Regions from separate parts of the Homo sapiens genome. Here region 2 is linked to region 1. The links come from fine-mapping of genetic effects on gene expression. Tissue or cell type: lung. Region 1 holds a variant in brackets; the other region holds the start of a gene. All regions are shown on one strand. Distances are between the middles of the regions. Region 1 overlaps TYW3 (tRNA-yW synthesizing protein 3 homolog). Region 2 holds the start of TYW3 (tRNA-yW synthesizing protein 3 homolog).

Region 1 (8,000 bases):
TCACTGCTTTCAGTTCTGTTGGATATATACTCAGAAGTGGTATAGTGTAATCAAAGAAAGCATATTGGAAGAAGTCACTGAGCAGGGCCTAAAATGCAGGCAGGGTTTTTATATGAAGAGCTCTGTGGGAGGGGGAAATAGCATGATAGATAAAAAAGAAGAGCATGAACAAAGGAAAAAGAGATAGTGATATGGTTTGGCTTTGTCCTCACCCAAATCTCATCTTGAATTTCCATGTGTTGTGAGAGGGAGCTGGAGGGAGGTAATTGAATTATGGGGGCAGGTCTTTCCTGTGCTGTTCTTGTGATGGTGCATAAGTCTCACAAGATCTGACGGTTTTAAAAACGGGAGTCGCCCTGCACAAGTTCTCTTCACTTGCCTGCTGCCATGTGAGACATGCCTTTCACCTTCCACCATGATTGTGAGGCCTTCCCAGCCACATGGAACTGTAAGTTCATTAAATCTCTTTCTTTTGTAAATTGCCCGGTCTCGGGTATGTCTTTATCAGCAGTGTGAAAATGGACTAATACAGTAAATTGGTACCACTATAGTGGGGCACTGCGGAAAAGATACCCAAAAATGTGGAAGCGACTTTGGAACTGGGTAACAGGTAGAGGTTGGAACAGTTTGGAGGATTCAGAAGAAGACAGGAAAATGTGGGAAAGTTTGGAACTTCCTAGAGACTTGTCTAATGGCTTTGACCAAAATGCTGATAATGATATGGACAAGGAAATCCAGGCTGATGTAGTCTCAGATGGAGATGAGGAACTTGTTGGGAACTGGAGCAAAGGTGACTCTTGTTATGTTTTAGCAAAGAGACTGGCAGCATTTTACCCCTGCCCTCGAGACTTGTGGAACTTTGATGTTGAGAGAGATGATTTAGGGTATCCGGCAGAATTTCTAAGCAGCAAAGCATTCAAGAGGTGACTTGGGTGCTGTTAAACACATTCAGTTTTATAAGGGAAGCAGAGCATAAAAGTTTTGAAAACTTGCAGCATGACAATGTGATAGAAAAGAAAATTCCATTTTCTGAGGAGAAATTCAAGTCAGCCCTAGAAATTTGCATAAGTAATGAGGAGCTGAATGTTAATCCCCAAGGCAATGGGGAAAATGTCTCTAGGGCATGTCAGCGGTCTTCACAGCAGTCCCTCCCATCACAGGCCCAGAGGCCTAGGAGGAAAAAGTGGTTTTGTGGGCTGGGCCCAAGGTCCCTGTGCTGTGTGCAGCCTAGGAACTTGGTGCCCTGTGTCCCAGCCACTCAAGCCATGGCTGAAAGGGACCAATGTAGAGCTTGGGGCTGTGGCTTCAGAGGGTGCAAGCCCCAAACCTTGGCAGCTTCCATGTGGTGTTGAGCCTACGAGTGGACAAAAGTCAAGAATTGGCATCTGGGGACCTCCATCTAGATTTCAGAAGATATATGGCAACACCTGGATGCCCAGATGGAAGTTTAGTGCAGAGGCGGGGCCCTCATGGAGAACCTCTGCTAGGGCAGTGCCAAAGGGAAGTGTGGGGTCAGAGCCCCCACACAGAGTCCCTACTCGGGCAATGCCTAGTGGAGCTGTGAGAAGCGGGCTACCATCCTCCAGACCCCAGAATGATAGATCCACCGACAGCTTGTACTGTGTACCTGGAAAAGCCACAGACACTCAGTGCCAGCTTGTGAAGGTAGCCAGAAGGGAAGCTGTATCCTGCAAAGCCACAGAGGCAGAGCTGCCCAAGACTATGGGAACCCACCTCTTGCATCAGCATGATCTGGATGTGAGACATGGAGTCAAAGGAGATCATTTTGGAGCTTTAATGTTTGACTGCCCTGCTGGATTTTAGACTTCCATGGGGCCTGTAGCCCTTTTATTTTGGCCAATTTATCCTATTTGAAATGGCTATATTTACCCAATGCCCACACCACCATTGTATCTAGGAAATAACTAACTTGCTTTTGATTTTACAGGCTGATAGGCAGAAGGGACTTGCCTTGTCTCAGATGAGACTTTGGACTATGGACTTTTGAGTTCATGCTGAAATGAGTTAAGACTTTGGGGGACTGTTGGAAAGGGATGATTGGTTTTGAAATGTGAGGACATGAGATTTGGGAGGGGCCAGTGGGGCAACCTGGTGGGAGGTAATTGAATCCTGGGGACAAGGTCTTTCCTGTGGTGTTCTCATGATTGTAAGTCTCATGAGATCTGATGGTTTTAAAAACGGGAGTCTTCCTGCACAAGCTCACTTTTCTTGTCTGCTGCCATGTGAGACCTTCCACCATGACCATGAGGCCTCCCCAGCCACATGGAACCATAAGTCCATTAAATCTCTTTCTTTTGTAAATTGCCCAGTCTCAGGTATGTCTTTATCAGCAGCACGAAAATGGACTAATACAGATGGCAATATGTAAGCCATAAATAGGGATCAGTGAATGGTTCGGTTTACCTAGAAGATGAGAGAGTAAGAATTTCTGTTGTATCACTTTGCTGCTTTTCTTCCTGCTTGTGATGTTTCTTCTTAGTTTCATTGTAGGTTTCTCTTCTTCCTCTTCATTAAATACTGTTCTCCAAGCTTCTGTCCTTGGCCCATGGCTTCAACTAGTTCTGCTACTTTTCCATGTACTGGCAGGTCTTCTAAATCTTTCTAGAGTCTTGGGCCAACATATCCAATAACCATTTGAACATATCTAATTAAAATCTCTCACCAGCTTTTCCTTAATATGTTTCTTACCTTATTCTAAATCCCCCAGCCGTTTTCTTGGTTCCAATTCTTATCATCATTTACCAGCCATTTTCATGGTTCTGATTCTTATCATCATTTACCAGCCATTTTCATGGTTCTGATTCTTATCGTCATTTACCAGCCATTTTCATGGTTCTGATTCTTATCGTCATTTACCAGCCATTTTCATGGTTCTGATTCTTATCGTCATTTACCAGCCATTTTCATGGTTCTGATTCTTATCGTCATTTACCAGCCATTTTCATGGTTCTGATTCTTATCGTCATTTACCAGCCATTTTCATGGTTCTGATTCTTATCGTCATTTACCAGCCATTTTCATGGTTCTGATTCTTATCATCATTTACCAGTGCAAAACAGGTATTTCTATTACATTGAATTACAATTACTTAATTGCACATCTTTTTTTTCCACTGCAACATGGTCACGTTGAAGATAGGACTCCCCCCACCAGCCCCCAACCTTACACACATACACAAACACACTTGAGATATCTTATCCTACAATGTAACATGTATCTGGCTCACAGTAGAAGCCCAAGAAATGTTTATTGAATTAATGATAAAAGATAAAGGAGCTTGAAAGTTAACACATTATATTGAGTTCTCCAAAGGCAAAAACAGTTTCTTGTTCATTATATTCTGAGTGTCTGGAATGAGAATAGTGGTTAATAAATGTTCACAAATTTAGTTGACTAGACTTTTTCATAAATAGTGCTACTTTTTTTAAGGCTTCAAAGCATTAGGATGCTTATTCTGGAAGACCTGTCAGATGGTTTAGAGATGGGGTGAGTACAAGTAGGCTCTTTCTATAGCCTAAGGAAGAAGTAATAGGTCCCTGAGTAACAAGATGAATGAGAATGAGACTGCAGAATATCCATCAGACATGGCAGCAGGTTGGAAATAGGGGTAACACAGAGAAGGAGGACTAAAGAATAAGAGCTGTCTTAGATTCCTCATAGTTGCTAGTCTTTATCATTTTTCTTTCTTTCTTTTCTTTTCTTTTTTTTTTTTTTTGGTAGAGATGAGGTCTTTCTATGTTGCCCAGGTTGGTTTCAAACTCCTGGCCTGGCCAGAAGTGATTGTCACACCTTAGCCTCCCAAAGTTTTGGGATTATAAGCATGAGCCACTGCACATGGTCAAGTCTTACCATTTCTAAAAATGGGTCTAAAACAGCTAAATAAATAACACACATTTCCCTGTATAGTTGACCCTTGAACAACATGGAGTTAGGGTTACCACCCCCCTATGTAGTTGAAAATCCACATGGCTTTTGTTGTTGTTGTTTTTGAGACAGGATCTCACTGTCACCCAGGCTGGAGTA[CA/C]GTGGCATGATCTTGGCTCACTGCAACCTTCGCCTTCCAGGCTCAAGTGATCCTCCACCTCAGCTTCCCGAGTAGCTGTTACTACAGGCATGTACCACCAAGCCCAGATAATTTTTTGTATTTTTTTGTAGAGATGGGGTTTTGCCATGTTGCCTAGGCTGGTCTCAAACTCCTGGACTCAAGTGATTGCCCGCCTTGGCCTCCCAAAGTGTTGGGATTACATGCATAAGCCACCGCACCTGGCTGACATATGACTTGACTCCCAAGAAACTTAGGTACTGATATCCTACCTTTGACTGGAAGCATTATTCATAACATAAGCAGTTGATTAGCACATGTATTGTATGTTATATATATTGTGTACTGTATTCTTACAATAAAGTAAGCTAGAGAAAAATGTTATTAAGAAAATCATAAGGAAGAGAAAATATATTTATTATTCATTAAGTGGAAATGGATCATCACAAAAGCCTTTGTCTTCATCGTCTTCACCTTGAGTAGGCTGAGGAAGAGGAGTGGTTGGTCCTGCTATCTCAGGGGTGGCAGAGGCAGAAGAGGTAGAGAAGGTAGAAGGAGAAGCAGGAATATTTGGTGTAGCTTTTATTCAAAAAAAATCTGCATGTAAGTGGACCTGTGTAGTTCAAAACCATATTGTTCAAGGGTCAACTGTATACTTAAGACCAAATAAGTAAATAATATAAAGCGAAAACATATATTTTATTTTCTAGTAGTGTTTCCTGGGACATCCCCCATGCCCCCATCTTTTTTCCTCCTAATTCCTCTCTTAGCACATTGTCAGCTTCCATTCATCCTTGCAGTTCAGCCCAGGCATTGGATCTTATAACGGAGAGCATTTTGTGATTTCAGTTAGAGCACTGTGTCCCATCTTTTTCATGGTGTGTTAAATGTGGCTTTACAGTTCTGTAGCTCCTGTTAAACCATGAGCTCCTTGAGGGCACAGACCACAGACCACTTCTCTGGGCTTCTAGTACTGGGCACTTGGCCTGTCACATACATGTTGTTTTTTAAAGAAAATGCTAGTTAAAATCTAAATACATATTAGAATAGCCTTCTTTGATATTTGTGAATGATGGAAGCCTAAAGGAAATAAAATTGTGCCTCAGTTTCCTCAATTCTGTGTTTTTGTTTGAGAAGTTAGAGAAATTCCAGCTTTCTGTTGAAAGTGGTTTTCTAACTGACGTTGAAAAACAAGAATTCATTTTCTCAGGCTTGGCCTGAAAACTTATGAAGAGAACTAAGTACAAGTTGTCCTATGCTATGATAATCTTGACTGCAGAGGCAGAAAAACTGAAGGCTATTTGCTTTTCTTTCAAGGAGAGAAAAAATACAGTTGCCTGAACATACTTTTTTTTTTTTTTCCTTAAATCTCAGAGCTCATTTTGTTGCCTGTGAGAGTTCAGAAAATTGCACTTTTGAAAATCAGGCTTAAGTGTTACTGTATAAGGGGAGAACATAACTTTTGACTTACTGAGTACTGTTTCTCAAAGGACTTTTAAAGTTCTCTTAGAAAAGGGAAAGGAAAACTAGTATTTGAAGTTTTTATTCAGGAAAGGATCTTTGTTCCATTTTACCAGTTGTTTTGGTACCCTAAGGACATAGCTTTGAATTCTTAGGTTCTTTAATGGTTGATTAAAGTAAGGCATACATTCCTTTTTAATTACTTTTTTTTAATGTGATGGATGAGGCATTTTTCACAAGCTGTTAATTCTCGGTGATCATAAAGGAGCAATTTAATCTTATCTTTCATTTTCTAGGAAGAAAGTATAATCCAGAAAAAAACACTCAGTTACCTAAGCCTAAAGTGCAGGGTTGATAAAGAATGGTAGAAGATGAGGTTGTATAACAGGGATGGCGTCTTATGATCAGGATGAGCCACACCATCTTGTGGCATGCTCAGATTTATGTTTTAGATAACGTTAATGTAAGTCATTCTGAACAGGCTGTGTGGAACATGAGAAGGATACCAGTCATTGACATCACCTAAGATGGTGACAAGACCTAGAAAGAAAGATCAAGTCAAGCATAGAAGTTTTCATCAATGTAAGGAACCAAACATTATTGGTAGATGACATGAGGGGCAGATGGAGGAATTTGGGAAAATGTTGATGAGCCGGTTTTATTCTGACCTCATCTCTCAGCTCTGTGGTAGCAGGATATGGAAAACATAAGCAGTCTCCGCTTGGGAGGAATGATGGAAGATGGTGTCTACAGGGGAGCCAGGTTTCAGTAACGGAAGGATGTAAAGGGTGCATTAAGTGAAAGGATGTTACCATGGAACAAGGCCCAAAAAGTTATGTATGTCACGCATCTCAGTCTTTTTAAATTTAACTCTGTGTCTGTTTTTGAGATTAATTCATTCATTGATAAAAATATTTATTGAGCATCTGTTGTTTGCCAAGCACAGCACTAGATATCAAGGTGTACAGTGATGAGTGCATAAGTTCTTGAAAATGGACAGGATGTGTACTCATCATGTTGTATATGTATTAGAGTTAGGTGACATATTTAGGAATATGTGGATATTTGGAGTTTTGGAGTTTTATAGGCTTCGTAAGTAGAACTTAGCCTGTTTATTGAATCAAACAAAGATGAAAATTGGTCCAAATAGAGATCTATTCTGTAGATATCAAAAATTTCTTGCCATAGTCTCCCATTATAATAGGACATAAAAGTAAGATGAGATCTCTGCAGTGGCAGGGGGGTTTCCTAACTTTCAGATCATTCTGATTTGAGACCTAGGATAACACATTTATAGTTACATTTTTATTCTGGGGTTATTCATTCATTTATTCAATATAGTCTTACTGAGTATGCCAGCACTCTACTACATGCTCAGAATATAACAGGAGACAGGTAGATAGGATCCTTGCTCTCATGAAGTCTATATTCCATAAAAGTAGTCATTTTTGATAACTAACTCTCTGGGTACTTACATATATCATCTGTAATCCTGTGACAACCCTGATAGCTACAGGATAATAATATCCAGCTTTATAAATGTGAAAAATCAAGACTGTGGGAAATTAATTGGAATTAGCTGACATCACCTTTCCTAAAAGAATGTTGGTGTCAAATGCATGCAACACACCATGCTATGCTGCCTGCTGCAGGCTACTGTGTCAAGCAGAGTTTTGTGTTAGGTGTTAACATGAGGGTAGAAAAGAAATGAGGCCTGGTTTTCAGAGAGCCTACAGTTTATTGTATCACAAAACTAACACTAAAACTCCAATAGAAAAATGAATAAAGGGAAACAATAATTTACACTAAAAAATTCAAATAGCTAATAAATGAGAAACATTGTATTTTACTTACAAAGAAATGAAAGTTAAAATAATGCGATATCATTTTCACCCATCCAGGTAGAATGTGTTTTTTGATGGGAATATTCAGTGTATAGGTGTAGTGATCTCTCTCAAGTGCAGCTATTAGAAGCGTATTTCTTTGAATATCTATTGTGAAAACAAGCAGTATTTATCAAGAGCCTTGTAATGTTTATGCCTTTTAACGATGTAATGATATTTCTAGGTGTCTATATAAAGAAATGGCTAAAAACTCACATCACATCATTTTCAAAAATGCTTACCACATTTTTGTTTGTATCAGGGAAAATTTGAATGTAAATAAAGGCCAATCTAGATGACATAATGTTGTACTGCCACTCTCAATAAATAATAACTTTGAAAAAACAATGTAAAACTTTATATGTAATATTCTAATTGTGACAAATAGGTATATGGATTAATTAATAAATACATTAATTCAGACTACATTAATAAACTGAAAAGAAAAATATTGAGAGGAGTTATTTCTAGTTATGTAGAGGTGATCTGTATTTGTAACCTCACACATTATACAAATTACCTAAAATGAGCCATTACATTTATGTAATAATAATTGCATTCTTTTTTACCCTCTTCTTTGACCCCTACATTTG
Region 2 (8,000 bases), 26 kb before region 1:
CAGTCAACCTCTTGATGCTGTTTCCTCATCTGAAATCTGGGATCCCACTCAGAGTTACGTGCTAGAGACGTGGCAAGCACCAAGCACAGAACTTAGCAAACACATGATCTTGTATATAGTAGACATCATTATTGTTTTCCCCTCTATTCTTCTTTTCAATTTCTGAATCATAAGGATTGCCTGAGCCTAGGAGATCAAGGCCAGCCTTGGCAACATGGCGAAATGCCATCTCTACAAAAAAAAAAAAAAAAATTATCTAGGTGTGGTGGCAAGCACCAGTGGTCCCAGCTACTCAGAAGGCTGAGGTGGGAGGATTGCTTGAGCCCAGGAGATCAGGATGCAGTGAGCCATGATCCTGCCACTGCACCACTCCAGCCTGGGTGACAGAGTGAGACCCTGTCTCAAAAAAAAAAAAAAAAGCAGCAGACTAGAGAAGTCATTAAAATGTTATGAAAAAAATATACTCTATAGTTCTATAATCATCTTTAATATAACGATATTTACAGAACTCTGGTTATCAAAACAAGCTCTTATTCTCAAAGAATTCGGTCTAGAAGATGACTTAAACAAAACATTAATACTAAATATTGGTTGTTATGCAATGCGTATTTTTCTGAACCTTAACTGTACATGAAGTGGTGTGTTAAACTCAGAGAACACAAAGAGCAAGAAGAAAATGCCCCACCCTGCCCCTAGCTTCTGTAAGCTGGGTGCTCTCTCTCTCTCTCTCACACCTACACACATAGCCTATGAGATGCTTGCTTTTTCCATTTTCGATATCTACCTACTTCCTACATATTTCTTTCACTCACATCTCATGATTACCATAAAAAAACTGTTGTAATAATAAAAGTAAAATTACTCTGAAATAGGATCTGTATCTTTCCCCCCCCACATTTTGGCATTGGCTAAGTTGGGAGAAAGGAATAAAGGAAGATGACTCATCCTACTGGATTTGGAAGACTCATCTGCTTTGCCCAGTACTATCTGACTACATTATCCTATCAGGCTTGAAAGTGATGGGGCATGGCCTGACCACACTATCTCCTACTTTGCTTCTGTTGATCTTATCTCCCACTGAGCCTTTAGCATTCTGATTCATCAGGCTCCAACCTGCACTCATTGCCTTTGAACTCACCTATCCACGGGATCATCATATGCTTCATAACGATGAAGCCTGTCAAAGGAGATTACACAAAGAATAAAATAACGTGGCATACTGATGGCAAATAGGATAATACTTAAAATCCTGTAATACCGGATTTCTTCTAAAAAGCATAAGTCTTCCACCTCCATTGACTTAACTGTTTTCAGAACAGGTAGAGAAGTTATTTAAACTATTATTTTATGCAGAAGTAAAAATAAAATCGCCATCCATTTTATGGATGAGAAAACATCACAAGAGGTTAAGAGACTTGGTCAGGGTCACACAGAAGCAAAGCTAGAACCCAAGTCCTGTAATTAAATGGTGTTAGCTGATTTTTTTCTTTACCATCCTTTTCATCTCACCCTTTGAGATGCTGGCATATAAGACCCTTTACTTCGTAGAAATAAACTTTACAATAGTGATAGTGAGACAGATTGAGCTAGAAAATGTGAAATCAAACTAACCTGCAGGTAGAATCGCATATTTTATGACTAAGGCATCTGCTTAGAGTTTGAAATTTCTCAAATGCCCACTAAGTCAGGGAATGCAGCAGAAATACAAAGGACATGATTCTATTTTTAAAAATGTATAAAAAAAAATTACTCCCTAGCATCGGATCCTTGTGAACAGGACAGGCCTTTCCATTGCTTGTGCTTTTTAATTAAACTATACTTCAAATAGGCCTTCCTGTTTATCAAATATAAACTTTTAAAAATTAAGAGTCCCTTGGTTTAATTTTTGGTTTAATTTTACCTCTGAAAGGTTGCCAATATGCCTTACAAATCTAGGAAATAGAAAATCTAAAATCCCTCTTCCAACAGTGATCTTTTTCCTGGCTATGCTTGTATCCATTTGATTTAAACGAAAATTAAAGGAATTGGGAAAATGTTAGGAGTATATTTTAACATAGGATGAACAGATCAAGTCACAAAGCCAGAGCAAAGGAACATTATGAGACAAGAGCAAAAGTAAAATTAAATAAGAATTCTGGCAAGAATTTTAAAAACTGAAAACTTAGAAAAAAAATCAATCATTACAAATTGTTCTGCTGCTAATACACAATGACTCATGTAAGCATATGGTTTATTATTAACCCAGAAATGTAAAAAAGGCAAGAATTACAAGTGGTCAGAGAAAGTCTCTTCCTGGCTGTGTGATCTTATCAGGTCACTTCTGTTCACTTGAGATAGGACGGGGTAAGAAGAGGGGAGGAGTTTAATAATTTCGGACTCCTCCAGGTTCCATGATCGTATGGAACAGGGCAGTCTGTTCCCTAATGCTGGAGGAGTAGAGCTTGGAGAGATTTGCTGCTGAACTCGCTGCGCTAACCAGACACGTAATCACAGTGGCTTCAGAGGGACTCGCACAACAATTTCCATTAGCTACGGACAAGCATTCCAAACTTTAGCCTTTAGGTTTAATCATTGACACACCTTCCCTGGTCACTGAGTCTCCTCTAGAAACTCAGTATAAACATCCAACGATGTGTTAACAGGGTGTTTTGTAATTTTCTTTTGAAGATTATTCTAGGTGGTGGGCGTCACAGGGTCAATAAAACTATACATTTCTCTCAAAGACTGCAATCCTGATGGCAAAGCTGGAGGAAGCTCCGGGAAACCTGTAATTGTGGGAATCCAAGACAAAAAATCCCCCACAGCTGGGCTGTGGGAAGGGGCCCTACCTAGGAGAAGAAATCAAATCCCCTACAGCTGGGCTGTGCGAAGGGGCACTACCTAGGAGAAGAAATCCCCTACAGCTGGGCTGTGGGAAGGAGCCCTACCTAGGAGAAATCCCCTACAGCTGACAGGTGGGCTGTGGGAAGGGGCCCTACCTAGGAGAAGAAATCAAATCCCCTACAGCTGGGCTGTGCGAAGGGGCACTACCTAGGAGAAGAAATCCCCCACAGCTGGGCTGTGGGAAGGAGCCCTACCTAGGAGAAATCCCCTACAGCTGACAGGTGGGCTGTGGGAAGGGGCCCTACCTAGGAGAAGAAATCAAATCCCTACAGCTGGGCTGTGCGAAGGGGCCCTACCTAGGAGAAGAAATCCCCTACAGCTGGGCTGTGGGAAGGGGCCCTACCTAGGACAAATCCTCTACAGCTGAGAGCTGGGCTGTGGGAAGGGGCCCTGGACAGACCGCTGGGCGCTGCTGCAGGAATCCCCAAACCCAGGCACTGGCTGCAGGGAAAAATCAAGCGGGTGACTGGCGGGGGGGGGGGGGGGGGGTGCAGCGTGGGGCTGGGGGACAGGGAGTGCGGGGGGCGGAGGCTGGGCAGGGGTAGTGCCAACGGACACCTCATGGTGTGGTAGCCTAAACTCAGAGCCTAAACGCAGGACCAGGGCTAGGAGCCCAGGACCAGAAGGCAAAACTTCCTACCTGATTTATGGATGGGAACTTGCAGCCCCTGGAGGGGAATGGCTTCGGTCTGGAGCTCTACGCACTAGTTCTCTGGGAGGACAGAGGGCAGGAAAGGGGTGCAGCCAAAATCAAACTCGGTTCCACTTGGACGAGCAGTGGGGAGATTCGCTGTCTAAACAACTAAGGAGAGTTTTTAAAACCACTTACCAGAATCTAGAGTGGGAATTAAAATCTGCGTGGGCTTCTTCAGATTCCACAGAAATGAGGACTGCCACACCTTCTCCAACTTTTGCAGGCTCCACCCAGGATGTGCGCCTCGCTCCACCCAGGATGTGCGCCTCTCTCCACCCCTAGGCGAAGGCACTAGAATTTCCCAAATTAAGAACGAAGAGGAAGTTTGGACCTTTTCGGCCACCGCTCGCTTCAATATGGCTGCCCCCAGGGAGAGACGAGGCTACCATGAAGGAGCCGAGCGCAGACCCTGAGTCCGTCACCCATGGATCGCAGCGCGGAGTTCAGGAAATGGAAGGCGCAATGTTTGAGCAAAGCGGACCTCAGCCGGAAGGGCAGTGTTGACGAGGATGTGGTAGAGCTTGTGCAGTTTCTGAACATGCGAGATCAGTTTTTCACCACCAGCTCCTGCGCTGGCCGCATCCTACTCCTTGACCGGGTGAGGCCCCTTTGCGCCTGTCCATCGCCTGCCTTCTAGTGCGAAACTTCAGGAGCCCTGTTCCCATCCAGTGACGACCGGATCCAGCATGTCTGTGTTTGCTCCTCTGAGGGGTGGTCTCTGTTTCTTTATATGTGAAATTTAGGGGATTAGATCAGTGCTTCTAAAAGTTTAACGTGGCTATTAATCAGCTGAGCATCTTTTAAAATACAGATCCCGATTCTTTAAGTGTAGGGTAGGGCCTGATACTGTGCATTTCTAACAAGTGCCCAAATGATGTTGAAACTGCTGACCTGGGAACTATCTTGTGTGGCAAAGTTTAGAAAATTTGATTTTATTATATGAATACTAAGGGAATCTAAAGACTTTGTAGCTTGCTAAGGTATTGAATGCCGGAATCCGCTCATCAACAGCTCTGGCAAATCATTGTTACTGCATGCTTGAACATCACCAGTGTTAAGGAGTTTACTGCCTCCTAGTGAGCCCCTCCATTATTACAACTCTAGTAGTTTTACGCAGAGAAAAGTACGATCGTATATAATTTAGGATGGTTAGACTTTTTTTTTTAACTTTATGATGGGTTTACAGGGGTAGTAAATGCATTTTGACTTACATTTTCCACTTATGACGGATTTATTGGGATGTAACCCCATCATAAATCAAGAAGCAGCTGTACAAGCCATACCTCCTTATTTGCAGGTTCAGTTACCCCAGTCAACAGCAGTCTGAAAATATTAAATGAAAATTCCAGAAATAAACAATTAGTAAGTTTTAAATTGCATGCTGTTCTGAGTAGCGTGATAAAATCTTGAGCCAACCAGCTCCTTCCAGAATGGAAGGTGAATCATCCCTTTGTCCAGAATATTCCACTATATATTCTTGCTGCCCTTTAGCTGCTTGGTAGCCTTCTGGGTTATCAGATCGACTGTGGTGGTATCACAGTGCTTGTGTTCAAGTAACTCTTATTTTACTTAATAATGGCCCCAAAGTACGGGAGTAATGATGCTGGCGATTTGGATCTGCCAACAGTAAGTTTTAAAGTGCTTTTTTGAAGTGAAAAGGTGAAAGTTCTTAAGGAAAGACTTAAGGAAAGAAAAAACAGCATATGCTGAGGTTGCTAAGATCTACGGAAAGAATGAATCTTGTCAGTGAAATTGTGAAGTGAAGAAGGAAAAAGAAATTGATCTGAGGTTTCAGGCATCCACTAGGGGGTCTTGGGACATATCCCCTGAGGATAAGGCTGCTTGGGAGTGATACTGCTTAGATTAAAAACCACGGGCTATGTGACCTTAGGAAAGCTATCTCAACTCTGCCCCTTCCTGTTCTATGAACTGAGGATAATAAAAAGTATCTGCTTTATAGGGATTTTGTGTGGAGAAAATAGGATAATTTTTTTTGAAATATTTGGCTTTGTGCCTGGCCCATGCACTGTAAAAGTTGGCTGTGTACTGATTTTATTCGTAGTATTGGCTTAAGAGCATGGAAGACAGCACATTGTTAGGCTCATTCTTTAGGTCCATTATTGACTGATCATTTATTTGCTGATCTCTCAAGTTAGCAGGGCCTGTTCATTTTTAAATCACTTCCATCACCTTCAGAGCAATGGCATTCTTGCCCACAAACTCTCTCTTGCCCCATTTCCATAACTCTGTCTCGCCTTGATTTTTGCAATGGTTCTCTAACAAGCCACTTAACTATTCTTCTCCAAACCATGTTTGACAAATTGCAACTCTGCTTATCTCTCACCTATGCTATGTTTTATTACACATTTTTCTACATCAGAAAATCCAAATGCTTACTCTAGTATACCTTTCAACCTTTTTTTCATTGCTTTTCTTCATCTTTAGCTAGTTACTGAAACTAAACTGTTCTTTTCATCTTGTATTTACTTGCTTTTGCTCATGTTTTTTGGCGGTTTTTTTCCTGAAATGTTTTCCTATCTCTGCATATCTGAGACATGATTCCCAAAACTCCCCTCTCCCACCTGAACCCACAAACACATACTACCTACTTGGAAGTAATGACTGCTTCTGTACTGGTTAGACTTTTATTTCTTATCTTACACCTCGTATTATGGTTTATTTTAAAATCTGCCTTATTTCAGTAAGGATTTGGGGCAACTTACAAACAGGCAACACAAGAAAAAATAAAAAGTGGGAAAATCTGGATAAAGAAAATATAGATAAGATGAAGCCAGCGATGGCATTAGTTGCCAATCCCACCACTAGATCCTGTAAAGTTGCTAGAAGTGGGCCATACATTTGGCTCTAAGATTCAGAGTAGCCAGCACAATGTCAGATACGTAAGTCACCATCACCGAAGTCATACAATGAAGTCAAAATATTTATTTAGGACATGCATAGCAATTCCCGGTTCCAAGGGCAGACAGCAGAGTCTCTTGTGGATCCATCGTATAAATTATAGTTACTTTGAGTATAGTGATTTCTGTTCATGTGGTTTCCTGCATCCCCTTTCCAGTGTCCTTGAGGGGTAGGTTCTGTGTATACCCAAAGTACCTAATAGAACTTTGCAAATAAACATTTGTTCAATTTAAGTTAATATTAAAATGTTTGCCTTCATGAAACTTTGACCTTTCAGTCTTAGCTCCATCCTTCAGGACTACATCTAAAGTCTAATTCAGAGGTCACAAATTTATGCCTCTAGAGACCAAGGAAGTATTATAAATGTGTAAACGGCATAGGTGACAATAAAGGGTAGTAGGTCTTGTGTGGAATTGGGACAGTGCTGTCCTACAAAAGAAATTAAAATTATTTTTTTTTCATTTTTAAATACTGTGCTAGCCAAATAGCTAGAGTACAACTCAGGTGCTGCTAGTATTATCCCTTATACTAATCCCTTTTTTTCTTGCAAAATCATGACCATATTTCAGAAGATGTTTATCAAGTAGTTTTACCTTTCACATAATTTTCTACCTCAAGTTATTTGGGCTCATTCTTATTCTGGGTTAACATTACCCAAAAACATACCGAATTGTTTTTATTAATACTTAAAATCCTGACTTGGGATTATTAATTTAAGAAAGCCTACAATATACTATGCATTATGCTTATTATTTTTGTAAAATATTATATGAAACTTAAATTATGTTATTTTTTATTTTAGGGTATAAATGGTTTTGAGGTTCAGAAACAAAACTGTTGCTGGCTACTGGTTACACACAAACTTTGTGTAAAAGATGATGTGGTAAGTTTTAAAAAATAAATTTGGAAATAAACTTTTAAATTCAGTTACTTTAAATACATATGACAAGAATAGAAAATTCAAGGTAATTTATATGCAGAGTTATAATGGCTGAAGATTATAAAACCTAGAGAGCTTTCATTACAATGGCTCTTTTTGGGTTGTAGGAGATAAAAAGTATGGAAGCATTACTTACTGCTACTCAACAAAACACATCCTCTTGGACACAGCAGAAAGTTCATGGATATTGGACACCTATTGGATCCAAATTTTGAATTTTAATTCTGCTATTTGAAAACCCTGTAACCTAGAACAAATTATGGAAAGAGAAGGGGATTAGCACTATCTCTGTGTTACCAGCTTTACTGATATAAATAAATAATACATTACTTACCTGCATTGCTTTTTGAAAATCTTCATATCTCTGCTGGGTTATTTAGTTTCCTAAGGTAAAGAGTTTAGATGAATTCATAAGTTTTTATCAGCCAGGCACTTTTCATTCCCAGTGAATTTACAAATCCAATTCTGTTTTTAGCAAAAAAGATAATTTATTTAACTGGAAAGGGCGAATGGAGCTAGAATCAAGTATTGCTGGTTCAGATGTTCAAATCTTGTCTTCAGAGT

What was found.
Region 2: it holds the start of TYW3, and the variant in region 1 is fine-mapped to the expression of TYW3 in lung (TOPMed, PIP above 0.99). The same link has a PIP of 0.9 or more in whole blood.

Annotation. Positions count from the first base shown.
Region 1 is chr1:74,755,654-74,763,653 of GRCh38, forward strand. The region is part of intron 5 of TYW3 (tRNA-yW synthesizing protein 3 homolog); the gene reads left to right. Among named protein-coding and RNA genes, the nearest start is that of TYW3, 27 kb to the left of the region's middle. The variant CA/C (reference allele first, on the strand shown) is at 4,045.
Region 2 is chr1:74,729,244-74,737,243 of GRCh38, forward strand. It overlaps TYW3 (tRNA-yW synthesizing protein 3 homolog), which reads left to right and starts at 3,909. Exons shown (of 6, transcript NM_138467.3): 1 at 3,909-4,175; 2 at 7,299-7,379. The coding sequence starts at 4,002. It overlaps CRYZ (crystallin zeta), which reads right to left and starts at 3,807. Exons shown (of 9, transcript NM_001889.4): 1 at 3,713-3,807. RefSeq lists enhancers at 2,604-2,893, 3,489-4,199, 3,754-4,043, 4,424-4,523.